Homo sapiens: one gene and its partner. The protein of the gene in region 1 interacts with the protein of each later gene in a pairwise test. Each region holds a gene or a part of one and is shown in the gene's direction. Other genes may lie near its edges.

Region 1 (7,684 bases):
TCTTCCCTGCAGTGACCCTTCTAGGAAGATGGCATCTCTCTTTAACATACAGAACTCAGCCATTATCTCTCAGCCTCACCTTTTCAATTTCCTTTACTGTCTAGTTTGATGGCTTCTTAGTTCACTCCCTTGCTGTGTTTCTCTTCCTTTTTCTTCCTTGTTTCAGCTAAGATATTCTCTGGTAGCTAGTAAATATGGATAAGAATAATGATGTGAAGATCTTAGAAGCTATAAGATAATTGAAGTTACTTATAATAAAGAACTAGAGTTCTGTAAAGTACTAGACGACTCTTGTAGCATCTCTTTTAAGTTTCATATATTTTCATCTTGTTTCTGATCCTTATCTAATTAACTAGCCTTTCTTCAAGGATCAGCATGTGGTATAAAAAATATTTTAACATCAGTTTTACTGCTTTTCTTTTGATCAGTTATTACTGTTACAAAAGATTATTCTGTTTGCCTTTTAGGTTTACTTTGTTTCAGTTATTTGATACTGAAGGAAGCATTTGTGGATTGCCTTGGGAACCCAGTAACCATATTTAGTATGATTTCTATGGTAAAACTTGTTGAATTAAAAATAAGTAATAAAATTGATAATCTTGACATGCAACCTGTAAAATCATTTTGTGAATAGGATGCATGAATAGGCAATGTATTTGATTGTTAGTTTCATATTTACTACTAGGGATGCATGGGAAATGCATAAAGTGGTGGGCAAGGTCATTCTTCTTTTCCTATTTTTGAATAAAAAATGAAGAGGAAAGTGAAAGAATAAATTAGCTATATAATATATATGTACCATCTGAAATTGTCTCTAACTTTTTATAACTACAGGTTGAGCATCCTAAATCTGAAAATCTGAAATCCAGAATGCTCTAAAATCCAAAACTTTTTGAACACCAATATAGTGCTCAAAGGAAATGCTCATTGGAGCATTTTGGACTTTGGATTTTTGGATTGAGGATGCTCAACTGGTATAATGTAAATATTCCAAAATCTAAAAAAAAAAAAAAAATCTAAAATCCAAAACAATTCTGGTCCCAAGCATTTTAGATAAGGGTGCTTAACCTGTACTTTTAGTTAAAAACAAACCTTTGGAGAAAAACAAAGCTTTTTTTTCTTCTATGTTTTAAAAACAAAGCAGTCAAAAAATCTGAGTGGCATGAATTCTAAAATTTGTAAAGTATTATTTTTGATATTAAAGGAAGATGTAGATTCCTTCATGAAACAGCCTGGGAATGAGACTGCAGATACAGTATTAAAGAAGCTGGATGAACAGTACCAGAAGTATAAGTTTATGGAACTCAACCTTGCTCAAAAGAAAAGAAGGTAAGTGTAAAAATTTCTAAGTTTTGAAAATCTTATATGACTTGAACTTTTAAAAAATTGAGATATAATTTACATATAATAAAATATTCAGATGTCAAGTGTTCAGTCCTCCAAGGTGGCTGTACCATATGAAATTCCCACCAGCAACGTACAAGAGTTCCAGTTGTTCCGTATCCTTGCCAACACTTGGTATTGCCAGTCTAAATGTGGTTTTGAAAACATAATAGAATGGTTGTTAAAGACTGTATTCCAAAGCTTTCAAAATCATAACGTCTTATATGTCTAGTTCATCCTTCTAATTTTGCCAGTGAGATTAGAGACCCACAGAGTCTGGGCATAAGACTTAATTAGTTATGAAATCCCAAGATTTCATAACTAATAGGCATAGGAAAAAAGCTATCCTTACTCTCAACTCTTTATTTCCCTACATTATTTTATATAGCTTATAAAGTCAATTCACTGTAATAAATATTTATAGATCTCTGTTTTGTGCATGTGCCAGCATTCTTCTGTAAGATAAATATTTATGGAATGCCAGCTAGATGCCACATACTGTTTTGGGTGAAATAACATCCAGTATCTGCTTTCAACAAGGACACAGGACTGGGCATGGTGGCTCAAACCTGTAATTCCAGCACTTTGGGAGGCTGAGGTGGGAGGATCACTTCAGTCCAGGAGTTCAAGACTAGCCTGGGCAACATAGGGAGACCCCCGTCTCTACAAATAATTAAAAAATAATTAGGCTGGGCCCGGCGGCTCGCACCTGTAATCCCAGCACTTTGGGAGGCTGAGGTGGGCAGATTGCCTGAGCTCAGGAGTTTGAAACCACCCTGGGCAACATGGTGAAACCCCGTCTCTACTAAAATACAAATAAATTAGCCAGACGTGGTGGCATGCGCTTGTAATCCCAGCTACTCGGGAGGCTGAGTTGGGAGAATTGCTTGAGCCCGGGAGGCGAAGGTTGTAGTGAGCCGAGATTGTGCCACTGCACTCCAGCCTGGGCAACAGAGTGAGACTCCATCTCAAAAATAATAATAGTAATAATTAGCTGGGTATGGTGGCATGCATCTGTGGTCACAGCTCCTCTAGAGGCTGAGGTGGGAGGATCGCCTGAACCCAGGACGTTGAGGCTGCAGTGAGATGTGATCATGCCCCTGCACTCCAGCCTCGGCAAAAGTGCGAGACCCAGTCTAAAAAGCAAACAAACCACACAAAAAACTAGGGACACAGTTTGGTGGAAATTATAGGTATATAAATAAAATTAGCACACAAAGTAGAACAGTAGAGGTACAGGGGGATGGTAACTCATTACTTTGTACCAAAGCACCTCATTAACCTGGAGGGGCCAAGGAGGTTCAGAGGAAGCTTCTAAGAGGAACAGATAGCTGTGTAGAATTTCAAAGATTAGTTGTGAGTTTGGAGGCAGACTAAAGTGAGGAAGGGGTAGTCTGGGCCTAAGGCACCATTTATGCAAAGGTACAGAAGTTTGTAGGTATATTTTCTCATTTGATTTTGGTGACAGTTGTACAAAGTTGAATATGTACTGAGTATTAGATGAGATGAAAAGTCATTGACATGGAAAGATGGAGAGTGTTAATGGACAGAAGCAAGATAGAAAACATTAAGAACAGTGTGCTCTCGTTTTGGAAAAAAATGTATGTATGCACAGGAATATCTGGAGAAATCCACACTAAAGGCATATTAACAGTGGTAATCTCTGGGTAGTTAGAATATGGCATTTTTCTTGTTTTTGCTTAGCTGTTTTCTTAATTTTTTACAATGTACATGTACTGCTTTTGTGATAGTAAAAGTTTATTTGAAAAAGAAAAATAAAGCCATTGGATTTGAGATCACCTACAGGGAGGTTACAGATAGAGAAGAAAATGTGCCTTGGGGCGGGGTGCAGTGGTTCATGCCTGTAATCCCAGCACTTTGGGAGGCCAAGGTGGGCGGATCGCTTGAGCCCAGGAGTTCAAGACCAGTGTGGGCAACGTGGCAAAACCCTATATCTACAAAAATTAGCTAGGTGTTGTGGTGCATGCCTGTAGTTCCAGCTACTAGGGAAGCTGAGGTGAGAGTATTGCTTAAGCCAGGGAGGTTGAGGCTGCAGTCAGCTGTGAGTGTGCCACTGCACTCCAGCCTGGGCAACAGAGTGATGATACCCCGTCTCAAGAAAGAAAAAAAGGAAAAGAAAATGGGCCTTGGGACCAAGTCCTGGGAGAGGGGGAAATTTGCGTATCAAACTTAAATTGCTCTTCTAACTAGTAAATTAATGATAGACAAAAACAAAAAAAAGAAAAAAGTTATATTGCTAACTCTACAACTGTGGTATGTAGCAGGATACTCACTCTAGCTTAACATATGGTCTAGGCCTAAATGTGGGGAGAAGGGGTAAAAATTCAAAGCACTTAGGAAACATCAGTGAACGTTGGTGTTCTGGATGAGAACAGTGTTTGTCTAGTGTTTTAAAAGAGAATGGTAGAGTTGGAGATAGTGAGTTAGGAAAATTTTCTTGAGTTTTACCTATTTTAATAGTGGGTTGGTCATTTTTTTGAGACAGGCTTTCTCTCTGTTGCCCAGGCCAGAGTGCGGTGGTGTGATCACAGCTCACTGCAGCCTTGACCTCCTGGGTTCAAGCAATTCTTCCATCTCAGCCTCCCAAGTAGTTGGAGGGCTACTTTTCTCTTTTTATTTTTCTGGAATTTCTCTCACTCCTATGATGTCAGCTATGCAACAAAACTATTTTTGTGTCATGATCTAGTTGTTTTGCAGCAGATGGCTCTATGTAGTTTACATGCTAGCCTTTTTGTTTTTTTTTTTTTTCAATTTGCTATTATTTTATTTAGGATTTTTGAATTTCTGTTCATAAGTGAGTTCAGCCTATTTCTTTCTTTTTTTAATTTTTTTAGTATTGATCATTCTTGGGTGTTTCTCGGAGAGGGGGATTTGGCAGGGTCATAGGACAATAGTGGAGGGAAGGTCAGCAGGTAAACATGTGAACAAAGGTCTCTGGTTTTCCTAGGCAGAGGGCCCTGCCGCCTTCCGCAGTGTTTGTGTCCCTGGGTACTTGAGATTAGGGAGTGGTGATGACTCTTAACGAGCATGCTGCCTTCAAGCATGTGTTTAACAAAGCACATCTTGCACCGCCCTTAATCCATTTAACCCTGAGTGGACACAGCACATGTTTCAGAGAGCACGGGGTTGGGGGTAAGGTTATAGATTAACAGCATCCCAAGGCAGAAGAATTTTTCCTAGTACAGAACAAAATGGAGTCTCCCATGTCCACCTCTTTCCACACAGACACAGCAACAATCTGATCTCTCCTTCCTTTCCCCACATTTCCCCCTTCTCTATTCGACAAAACCTCCATCGTCATCATGGCCCGTTCTCAACGAGCTGTTGGGTACACCTCCCAGACGGGGTGGCGGCCGGGCAGAGGGGCTCCTCACTTCCCAGACGGGGCGGCCGGGCAGAGGCACCCCCCCACCTCCCGGACGGGGCGGCTGGCCGGGCGGGGGCTGCCCCCCACCTGCCGGACGGGGCGGCTGCCAGGCGGAGGGGCTCCTCACTTCTCAGATGGGGCGGCTGCCGGGCGGAGGGGCTCCTCACCTCTCAGACGGGGTGGCTGGTCAGAGACGCTCCTCACCTCCCAGACGGGGTGGCGGCGGGGCAGAGGTGCTCTTCACATCTCAGACGGGGTGGCTGGGCAGAGGCGCTCCCCACATCTCAGAGGATGGGCGGCCGGGCAGAGACGCTCCTCACTTCCTAGACGGGATGACGGCCTGGAAGAGGCGCTCCTCACTTCCCAGAGTGGGCGGCCGGGCAGAGGGGCTCCTCACATCCCAGACGATGGGCGGCCAGGCAGAGACGCTCCTCACTTCCCAGATGGGGTGGCGGCCGGGCAGAGGCTGCAATCTCGGCACTTTGGGAGGCCAAGGCAGGCGGCTGGGAGGTGGAGGTTGTAGCGAGCCGAGATCACGCCACTGCACTCCAGCCTGGGCACCATTGAGCACTGAGTGAGCGAGACTCCGTCTGCAATCCCGGCACCTCGGGAGGCCGAGGCTGGCAGATCACTCGCGGTCAGGAGCTGGAGACCAGCCCGGCCAACACAGCGAAACCCTGTCTCCACCAAAAAAATACGAAAACCAGTCAGGCGTGGTGGCGCGTGCCTGCAATCCCAGGCACTCGGCAGGCTGAGGCAGGAGAATCAGTCAGGGAGGTTGCAGTGAGTCGAGATGGCGGCAGTACAGTCCAGCCTCGGCTCGGCATCAGAGGGAGACCATGCAAAGAGGGCGAGGGCGAGGGTGAGGGTGAGGCTAGCCTTTTTCTTTGTATGTGTTGTAAATCTTGCAGCCTGTCATTTAACTTTACCCTTCAAGCTGTGTAAAAGTTCCTTAGTATTTCATGTGTTAATCTCTTTTTCGACACTTGAATCTGAGATCTTTTATCTTTCTTTAATTGGAAATTTTGTGATTATCACTTTTTCTATCGTCTGTTAATTTTTTTTCCTCTTTCTTTCTGGGATTCCTGTTTACAGATGTTGACACTTCTAATTCTGCCTTCCATTTATTTATATTATTTCCCTTTTTTCTGTCTTTGTCATTTATCTTTTGGCAATTAGATGGATAGCCATGAGTTCTTTGTTTCAGCTGTTAAGATTTTTATAGCTGGTAGTTCTGGTTGGTTCCTCTTCATATTACCAATATCCTTTCTTTTCTCTTTGTGGTATCTTTAAGTATTTAATGTATAGTTTTATCTTTTGGTATTTGTTAATTTTGTTTCATATGGTAGAGGTTGTTGAATTTATTGTCTTTATTTATTATAATGATCAAATTATAATGTCTTTTCCCTGTCAGCTTAGATTCCCTCAGGGATATCAGCTACTTTGGCCAGTAATGTACGTGGAGGTGGGGGTAATTTAAGTCACTCCTGGTGGGTAGCAGTGGCGCTACCTCGGCTCACTGCAACCTCCACCTCCTGGATTCAAGGGATCCTCCCGCCTCAACTTCCCAAGTAGCTGGGATTACAAGCATGCACCACCACGCCCAGCTAATTTTTTTGTATTTTTTTTTAGTAGAGACTGAGTTTCACCATGCTGGCCAGGCCGGTCTCGAACTCCTGGCCTCAGGTGATCCACCCGCTTCGGCCTCCCAAAGTGCTGGGATTACAGGCGTGAATCACTGTGCCCAGCCAAGCTACTTTCTCTTCAGGTGAAGCAGGGTAGGGAGGAGTGTATTGCTTGGGCATGTGCTGTGTCATTGGTGGTCTGGTTCCTAAGTTAGCTAGGGCTGCATCTGATTGATTCATTAATATGCTTTATAGCATATTACATATAATATTTATATATACAGAATGCATCTTAAAAGTCATTTACATGACAAAAAATCTTGATCTGAACATACTCCTTATGTTGTGTGTGTATCACATATTTTACAAATGTATAACATCTTTCTGTTTACCTATATGAACATATCATGCAAAAATAAGCAAACTTGAGCAATCTATGGCATCCAGATTGAATTGTAGTGAAAAAATGAATGCTAGGTGTTTCTAGATTATTCACTGGACTGTATTATCAAATGATGACACTATGTTTTTTTCTTAAGCAGCAGGCTCATTTAACACATTTCTTGCCAGGTCAGTAGCACAGGGTGTAGTAAATTTGCCCTGCCAACCTGCTGCACACATGGAGTGACTTCTTTTATGTGACGCAATAAGTTCATTTTCATTGTTGTGTTTATATTTTGTTTACATTTTGGTCTCTAATAATATTTAGTAAATTTACCTCGAAAGAACCAGAGCTTCGTTTTTATATCCTTAGTCTGTTTTGCTAGAAATTACATTTGACAGAGACCCTAGAACTGTTTTGCATATATCTCCATGCAAAACACATGCATCTAATTACCATAAAGAGCTAAACCCCAGTGACAAAAACGGTATCATTGTTTTCTCTCTTTAATTGACTGAATGTTTTTAGCATACTGTTTTTCTCTTATGTTCTTGTCAGTGAGGTTGATTGCATTTGGGAGTCACTTACTAGCATTTTGCTAGTAGCTATCATATAACTTATCCATTAAGTCGGATCAGTTGTATCATGTCCATCATTGTTTTTTTAAATTTCTTGTGTTTAAATCAGTGATCCATTTATAATTTTAAGAACGATCGTTACCTCATTTGAAAAGAAGAGCATTTATCAACATAAAAGTTAAGGAAGAAATACCCAAAGCTTAAAAGAATCACTAAATTATACTGTATCATAATGTGGTGTGTTTGGCATTCAGATGATTCTGTACATTTTTCACAGTGTGACAAGTGCACATACTGAGAAGGTGTCACTGTGCTTTGCCTGGCATTT
Region 2 (7,684 bases), on another chromosome or scaffold:
GAGGGGTCCAGGCGTAGCTGGCCACAGAGCCTGTAGGGGCTGACCAGGAATTGCTCATCTCCCCAGTGCCACCAGCCAGCCTCTGGGAAAGCCTGGATCACCTTCAGTGTTTAATTTCCTCAGTGTGCCAGAGCCAGGAGGATTCCTGGAAACAGGTGTATTCCCTTTCTTAGGAAACCCCAGGACCTCACAATCCAAATGCAGAAAAGGCCCGTAGATGATTGTCCTCTGGAATCTTCCAAAAGGGTCTGGGAAGCTTCTGCAGAGACTAGGGATACCAAAGGATTAGAAGACAGGAGGTATTTTCTGCTCTTGTGTGTTTTAACTGAAGAGAAAAGCAGATGCAGCAAAGCACTGCTTGGGGGGAGCGGGTGGGGGTACATGGTGTCTCTGAATAAGATCTGGTGCCTGACCTGCAGCTCAGAACAGCTTGAGGCTGGCCAGTTGGCTTGGGTTAGGGAGTGACTTCAGACATCCCAGGAAAAAGAGGTTATCCAGATGTTTGCCAAGAGTTCTTTCTTCTGTAGGTGGAGCAGGAAGGAGAAAAATGCCCAGGCTGTTTGGTCATTTATTAAACACTGTTATGCACTGGTCCCTGAGAGCTCAGGAGTAATGGGAAGGCTGCCATGGAGTGGACTCTGTCCCTTTGCACTCAGTGCGATAAGAAGTGATACCCCTAATGTTTACTGAGCCAGGTTCCTTAGCACTTTCTCTATATTAATCCTTCTAATCTTTCCCACAACCCAGTGAAGAAAACACCAAGGTGACCCTCTTTATAGATCAGAAAACAGGCCTGGAGGGGACCCACGCCTTGCCCAAGGTCACAGGTTGGATACAGCAGAGCTGGCCTCCAACCGTGGAGCCCGTGCACTTAACATCTATTTGGATGGAAGGCTCGAAGGTTACCTGAGACAACCTGGTCAAGGTGATAATGTGGGAGAATGTGGCCAGTGGTTCCCAGATGAGTGAATGATCAGTGTGCAGTCACCAGAGGATGGGTGATAAACCGAGAACCACAAGCTCTTAACACTGTGGGGTGGGCGAGGCTTCATCTCCCAGGATGCAGCACTTGCTGAGTTGGGCAACAGGGGACCCTGGTTGATGGCCCAGGTTGGTTGGAAGCCTTTGGGAGATGTGCTCTGTGTTGGTGGGGAAGGCCAGGCATGGTTAGATCCCCTGTAGACTTGGGGAGCTCAGTTTCAGAAAGTTTCAAAGATCATCACTTGATTTCTGTGATTCACGTGATCTGAGGGCTCTGAAAGTGGTGGGTGAGTCCTGGAATTAAATCTGTTTTTTTCAAGTAGGAAAGACATGGGGTGGCAATGAGAGACATCTGTGTGGCTCAGAAAGATGTCTTGCTGAGGTCAGAGGGACAAGAGCCAAGGAGAACAAGAGGAGCCCTTCCCAGGACACTCACAATGACAGAGTGACGAGGGCCAGTAAAGAGTGTCAGGGGGTGAGAGCCCGGGTGTGAACTGAACCTACTGAGGAGAGCTGACGACCACAAAGCATCTTTTCATATCATGTTCGGAGCAAGGAGAACAAGGGCTTCATAGATCCATCGCCGTCTAGGGCAGCTGGTGTCTGTGAAGGGGAGGAAGGCACAGCTCCACTGTGCCCACAGCGGTCTGGACAGAGGAGGATCTGCAGGTGCAAAGGGCGCAGGCAGGTTCCCGGAGGAAAGCAGGAGCCACGTAGCGTGGGCTGCAGTGTGTGTGCTCAGGGCTCTGACCAAGAGAATGCCCTGGCCAGGGTATAGCATGACCTGGAATGAGATACCCCCATCTGAGGTGCTGTCTGAGAGGTGTTGGAAATGAAGCCCGGAGGTGGAAGAGACTCAAATCTGATGTTGGCCCTGGGAAAGATCCTAGACTAAGAAGAAGGCTGTGAGTCTGTGGGCAAAGGAGAGACGTGCATGAGGAGCTGGCGGGGGCTCCCTGGGGACAAGTCATGCCAGCCTCACGTCATTTTCCACCTTGCAGGTCTTCGGTCTGGCCCTTGTTCTGTTGGGGTTCTGGAGGACGTGCTGTGCCCTGGCCTTACTGACCTTACTCCATGCAGTGCTGATGCATGCGACAGCGGTGACCCTCCAGGGTCCCAGGTGGGATGAAAGGTCCCCAGCTAGTTCCTAGTTTCATCTCCTCATTTTCTCCATCCTCCTGCTCCTTCTTATTAAGATCTGGATGTTAACATTGATGGAGTGTGAAGCTGGGTGGGATATTTAATTCAGCAGTTGGCGGTGTCAGGATCCACAGTGGTCTCTGAAAGCTGAGATGCTGCCCTGAGTTTATCGGGATGGCATTTGGCAGATTGGAGATAAGTGCATCTGAATTGAGACACATAGCTTCCCTCATATGGTTTTTATGAAAATGAAATGAACAAGGTGCCTTATTTCATTTGTTAATACTATTGTTTGTCATGTAGATACTTACGTAGCCGATAAATGGTAACTTCTATTCTGATACCCTGAAGCATCCTGATAGCAAATGTTCCATCCTGCTGTAAAGGAGAACTGGTTTCTTCCAATTAGTCATACATGAGTAGGTCTGGGATGGCCTGGAGAGACAGCTTAGCCAGAGCGCATTTTACAGATGGAAACCTGAGGCTCAGAGAGGTTGAGTGCTTTGCTCGGGAACACAGAGAGGAGTGATGTTTCTGCCTCTGCCTCTTTGGGAGACACTGGCCGACATTCACCTCTGACGTCAGGCACCCCCTCTGAGGAATCCACTCAAAAAGGGCATCAGGAGTGGTGTGGAGCCTGCTGCACCACGTGGTTTGCGTCCTCTTCATGAAGTCACACGGGGTGGTCTGCAGGGCAAGGCGGGGTGGCGATGTTCCACAGGAGCTAGTCAAAAGCTTGTGACAAAAGGGAACGTGAGGTTTTATGTTCACTTTTCTTGCTTTCTCTCTGATTTATCCCATGCTTTCACTCCATGAGAGGGTTGGGCTCTCTGTCTCATCTCCTTGAGAGCTCCTGCAGGAAGTGGCTGGACGCAGGTACATCCTTTCATGGCTGGGCGGGAAGCAGGGAGAGGAAGAAGCTGATTTGGCCCAGGCTATATTTATGCATAGCAAGCCATGGAGGCTCTCATCCACTCCTAGATTCTCCCTGAGCCCTGGGATAAATATTTTCTAAGGATGAGAATTCTGGAATGCTGAGTGGAGTCTGGTTCTGCCAGTACCTCTCACCAGTGGAGGGGGCACTTGAAGAGCTTGAGTTCTAGTTTCCAGAACTTGAGGGTGGGGCTGGTGAGAGCGGGTAGGGATGAAGGCATCCCAGCAGGGCTGATACCACCTCCCCATGGGTGCCACCTTTACATGTGGTCAGTGCATGTCTTCCCTTCCACACCGTGGGCACTTCCAGGGTGAGGCTGAAAGCTGGTCCATCCATGGAGGTCCAGTTTGGCACAGGCAGGCAGTTCGCGAAGCTCTGCCAGGGGAGCAGAGAAGCGAGTGGATCCATGTGTGGGGAGAACCAAGAGTGAGCACTTCTGGCGAGTGGAGATGAGGTTACACATGCTCTCTCTAGGGGCAGGGCCAGGTGGTGGGGTGGCAGCCCCTTAGTGTGGGGGTGGGGGCCAGGCACAGCCAGACCCATCCTGCCAAGCCTGCATGTGCATTGCTCCAACTTTTGTCCTTCTGTGCACCTATGCCTACAGATCCCCTGTCCCCAGGTGCCTGAAGTGGCCTGGCACTCCTGAGGGTCAGGAGAAAAAATGAGTATGGCAACCAGCAAGGAAGGAAAACTGCCCTCAACCAGGGTGCAAACACAGTCGAATTAAGTCAGAGCTGGCAGGCAGAAGCCCTGTGTGCTCTGTGAATGTGGCAGCTGCTGCTAGATGCTGACAGGTGCAGGGGCAGGGCTGAGCCGGCGCCTCCGGGTGGCAGCCGTGTGTGTGTGTGTGTGTGTGTGTGTGTGTGTGTGTGTGTGTGTGTGATTGTTATTGCTGGCTCCTCTGGGTGGCAGCCATGTGTGTGTGTGTGTGTGTGTGTGTGTGTGTGTGTGTGAGATTGTTATTGCCGGCATCTCTGGGTGGCAGCTGTGTGTGTGTGTGAGTGTCTGTGTTTGATTGTTATTGTTCTGTGAGAGAGTCCTGGAGGTATAGTGCTCTGAGCTGAGGTGAGTTGTCACATCCATAGCAATCAGGATTCTTTGGATGCAAACCACAGCGATGGACTCTGGCCAACTTTGTGAAGAAGGAATTAATTAGAAGGTTATGGTGGCAGGTAGATCACAGTGTCAGAGGAAGAACTGGAGAAATAAGCTCAAAAAAGACCGGGATTGAGCTATTCAGAGAGTTCCAGTACCAGGCACACATAAGCAGCTTCTCAAACTGAAACTGGGTTTGGTTAGGAAGGATGCTGAGTAGCATAAAACAGAACCAAGCCATCTGACTGCTCTTGTCGTAGAGATCGCGTATTCCTCCTTTCCTGTCAGCTGGTTTAAAAACCTGGGGCAAAGGGGGACCCTGCAGTCCACCCCACTCTTCCTGAGATGCCCTGCGGGGGTTGCAGAGATAGATCAAACACAGGCTGTCTCTCCCCAGGGACCAACAGTCCAGTAGGTGATAGCGGCAACACTGACTATGGCCAGGCAGGCTGCTGAAGGTGGTCTCTGCAACCCGAGTCAGCATGGCAGCCCTGACGGTGTTTTGGTGTGAGCAGCTCGCAGATGCAGCCCAGTTGTTTTGCTTTCTGGGCTGCTTCTTGAGGGTCACCTCAAGTCTGCACACAAGGGTAGAGCTGCAAGCTCTGGAGGGAAATAGCACTGGGTTATAATTTCCACTGGAGGACATCTATAATTTCATGTCTCTGAGTGTGAGTTTGGCCACAGGCTCCTCTGTAGGTGTCTGCACGGGAACCAGTGAGGACCCTCAGGCTTGAGCCCCCATTCTGCTGGATCTGGTGGTCTGGAAGGCTGGGCATAGTGTGACTGCCTCAGCCCCTCCATTTGTGCTAGGGCTGGGGGAGAAGGAGGATGGGGTGGGGAGTTCTCTGACTTTGCACGGTGGGAGTACACCCTTCTTGGAGGATATGAGTGCAAATGGATGTCAAGGAGCCCAGAGCTCTTCAGAGCAAAGAGCTGGGCAAATTCCTGGCTCCCACTCTAACTCTCTCTCCTTATTCTCCCATACCTCCCTCGGCAGGGTTGAATTTCACAATTGGGTCTGACCTGGCTTAGTGTGAATGAAAAGTGGTCGTTTACAGGAATCCTCTCTGTCTCGCTGAATTCCTGCCCCTCAGTCTTTTCCTCACGATTGAAATATACCCAGCCCTTCTTTTCCACTAGGACTTTGCCTGTGCCATCTTACCATCCCTGATTGGTGAACTCGTATTCATCCATCAACACCCAGAGATAATATCACCTCCTCAATGGGACATTCCTCAGGCACCCCAGGCAGTCCATGGTCCATCCCTGATCTTGAAGCATTTCTCCCAAACCACTCAAGTGGGCTTGTCTCCATCCCAGGTCCTGTTACGAAGAGGTGTTTTTCTCTCTCATTGCATGTGGAGCAATACTTCCATGCTATTCATCCTGTTATCACAGAATAAAAGAACGACTGTCTCCCCTAAGAGATATGGTGTGGGTCCCTGTGGCTAGACCATGTGATCTTACCCATAAACAGTCCTCACAAACACTCTCGATTTACGTCTAACCCACTCTTGTCACTGCCTGGCATTCGCGTGTGCCGTTCTTTCTGCCCTCTCTTTTCTTTGTATCTGTCTGCCCTTTGGAGGCCTCCTGCCTCTTCCAGGAGGGTCTCTCTGATTATTCTGGTGCCCAGAATTAGAAAGTATATGGGGTACATGCTGTGGTGTGTGGTAAGTGTTTAACAGCTGGTTCTCAGCATGTAGCTGCAACATGGATTTTGGGTGATATTTTCATTTACAATAAAGTGTAAGATGAAAGTGGAACAATGAACATATGTCAGAACTTCACTTGTTTGTCAGTGATCTAAATAACTTCTTTCCTAAATCACATAATAGTTTCGGAATACTAGAAGAATAGTCCCTCAGCTTTTTGTGAGCTATTCACAATATAACAGCTATCGACAAGACAAAAATTTCAGTTTAATCTGCATTATTGACAATTTTTTTCCATTACTTTCTTAAGTCCAGACAATGAACAAAACAAGAAATCAAGCCTTGATTTATAGCATTTCCATAAATAATCCCATTCTGGCTGATTCCCTGATTTCTGGCCACTCACGATATCCCTGGATGTGGCATGAGGAGGAGTGGACCGTGGCAAGCCCCCGCACCGGCAGGTGGAGCAGCGTCCACAGCGTAGGCAATGGGAATGTGTAGTAGAATGACTAGGAAATGATGGGTTCTGAGTATGTATTGCCTGTGTTTTTAATATAACTTCTTTGACTGTAAGTTTGTATAGTTTAGTTTTGAATAATGTCTGAGTTAAAACAGCTAACTTGAAACATTCCTGATCATCTCACAAGCCACTGTGAGCTGGCTCCAGCACACCACTGGCTGCATACCAAGAAAATCAAGTTGCAGGCAGAGACGAAAACCTTCAGACAGAATTGCGTGGCTGTGTCCACTCAGTTTCGTCAGGGGGTGAGCTTTATTAAGTGCCACAGTAACAGATACTGTCATTGGTTCAGTCAACAACTGTTTCTAACCCCATCTCACTTGGCTTTCCTGCACTGCAGAGGTTGGGAAGCTAAATCCATGTTTCCCAGACTCTTTTGCAGCCAGGGTGCAGGCCTTTGACACAGATCCTCACAAGCAGCCAGATACATCACCCAGCCCCGGATGTGCAGTCGAGTCCCATGAGCTGAAGTCTTTGGCATGCAGGTGATATCTGTCACTCACGGTGGCAGGGACATCTGGACTTGTGGGGTGGCTGTGGTGGACTTTGTAGGAGTTTGGTCCCTTGTGATTGGTGCTGGTACCAGCAGTTTCTACTAGACAGTGCCAGGGCATGGTTAGGCTTTTTTTTCTGGCTACCCTGACCCTTGGAGAGCTCCCAAGCTTGGTCTCTGGCTCTCACAGGGATTTAATGAGCTGCATGATAGCCTTTAATAAGTTCCTTTCTGTTTAAACTACCCAGGTAGAGGCTGCTGTCTGCAGGTGGGAAGCCCTGATTGCTGGAACCTAAGGGATGTGAGAAATCACTGTGGAGTGTCAAGGTAACCAGGGATCTGCTCCTGGGACCTATTAATCCACCTCTTTTAGAAGGAGTCCACAGTCCTGTTTGTATTTGAATATTCATGAACATTAGAAGAGCAACTTAGTCTGGGTATGGCTATGGCTGACAGAAGTATCATGCTGTGTCACAGCTGATTATTAGATCTGCATTTTTTGCCCTTTAGCTTGTCAAAATAATGTCTAAAAAACCAGATTGATCACAAAAGATGCATCATAATGCCACATAAAGATGTCACTCGGCGCCTTATAGTATTTAGGACCATAGAGGACACCTGGTGCAGCCTCCTCATTTTGCAGCTGAGCAAGATCTTTGAAGGACAAGGACCTGCCCAAGGCCATCTAGAAACACTGAAGTTGAGACTCATACCCGAGCATCTTAGCTTTTGCCCACCCCACGCTGTTTCTCAGTCTTAACCAGCAAGCTTTCCTTGTTATTTTGGTTTGTCTTACGTCTAGGTTTGATTTGGCAGCACATTTCAACATCTGGTGAAGGCATGGGAATAAAACAGTGTAGGTG

The links. The genes of interacting proteins can lie anywhere in the genome.
Region 2: the proteins of VBP1 (region 1) and ZNF488 interact in binary tests that used the Homo sapiens proteins (3 or more experiments, as listed by UniProt).

What each region holds. Positions count from the first base shown.
Region 1 is NC_000023.11:155,218,979-155,226,662, forward strand, and holds part of VBP1 (prefoldin subunit 3), read left to right. Parts: intron 1-1,204; coding exon 1,205-1,329; intron 1,330-7,684. UniProt on the Homo sapiens protein: Binds specifically to cytosolic chaperonin (c-CPN) and transfers target proteins to it. Binds to nascent polypeptide chain and promotes folding in an environment in which there are many competing pathways for nonnative proteins.
Region 2 is NC_000010.11:47,373,925-47,381,608, reverse strand, and holds part of ZNF488 (zinc finger protein 488), read left to right. Parts: intron 1-747; exon of another isoform or gene 748-2,101; intron 2,102-7,069; exon of another isoform or gene 7,070-7,148; intron 7,149-7,684. UniProt on the Homo sapiens protein: Transcriptional repressor. Plays a role in oligodendrocyte differentiation, together with OLIG2. Mediates Notch signaling-activated formation of oligodendrocyte precursors.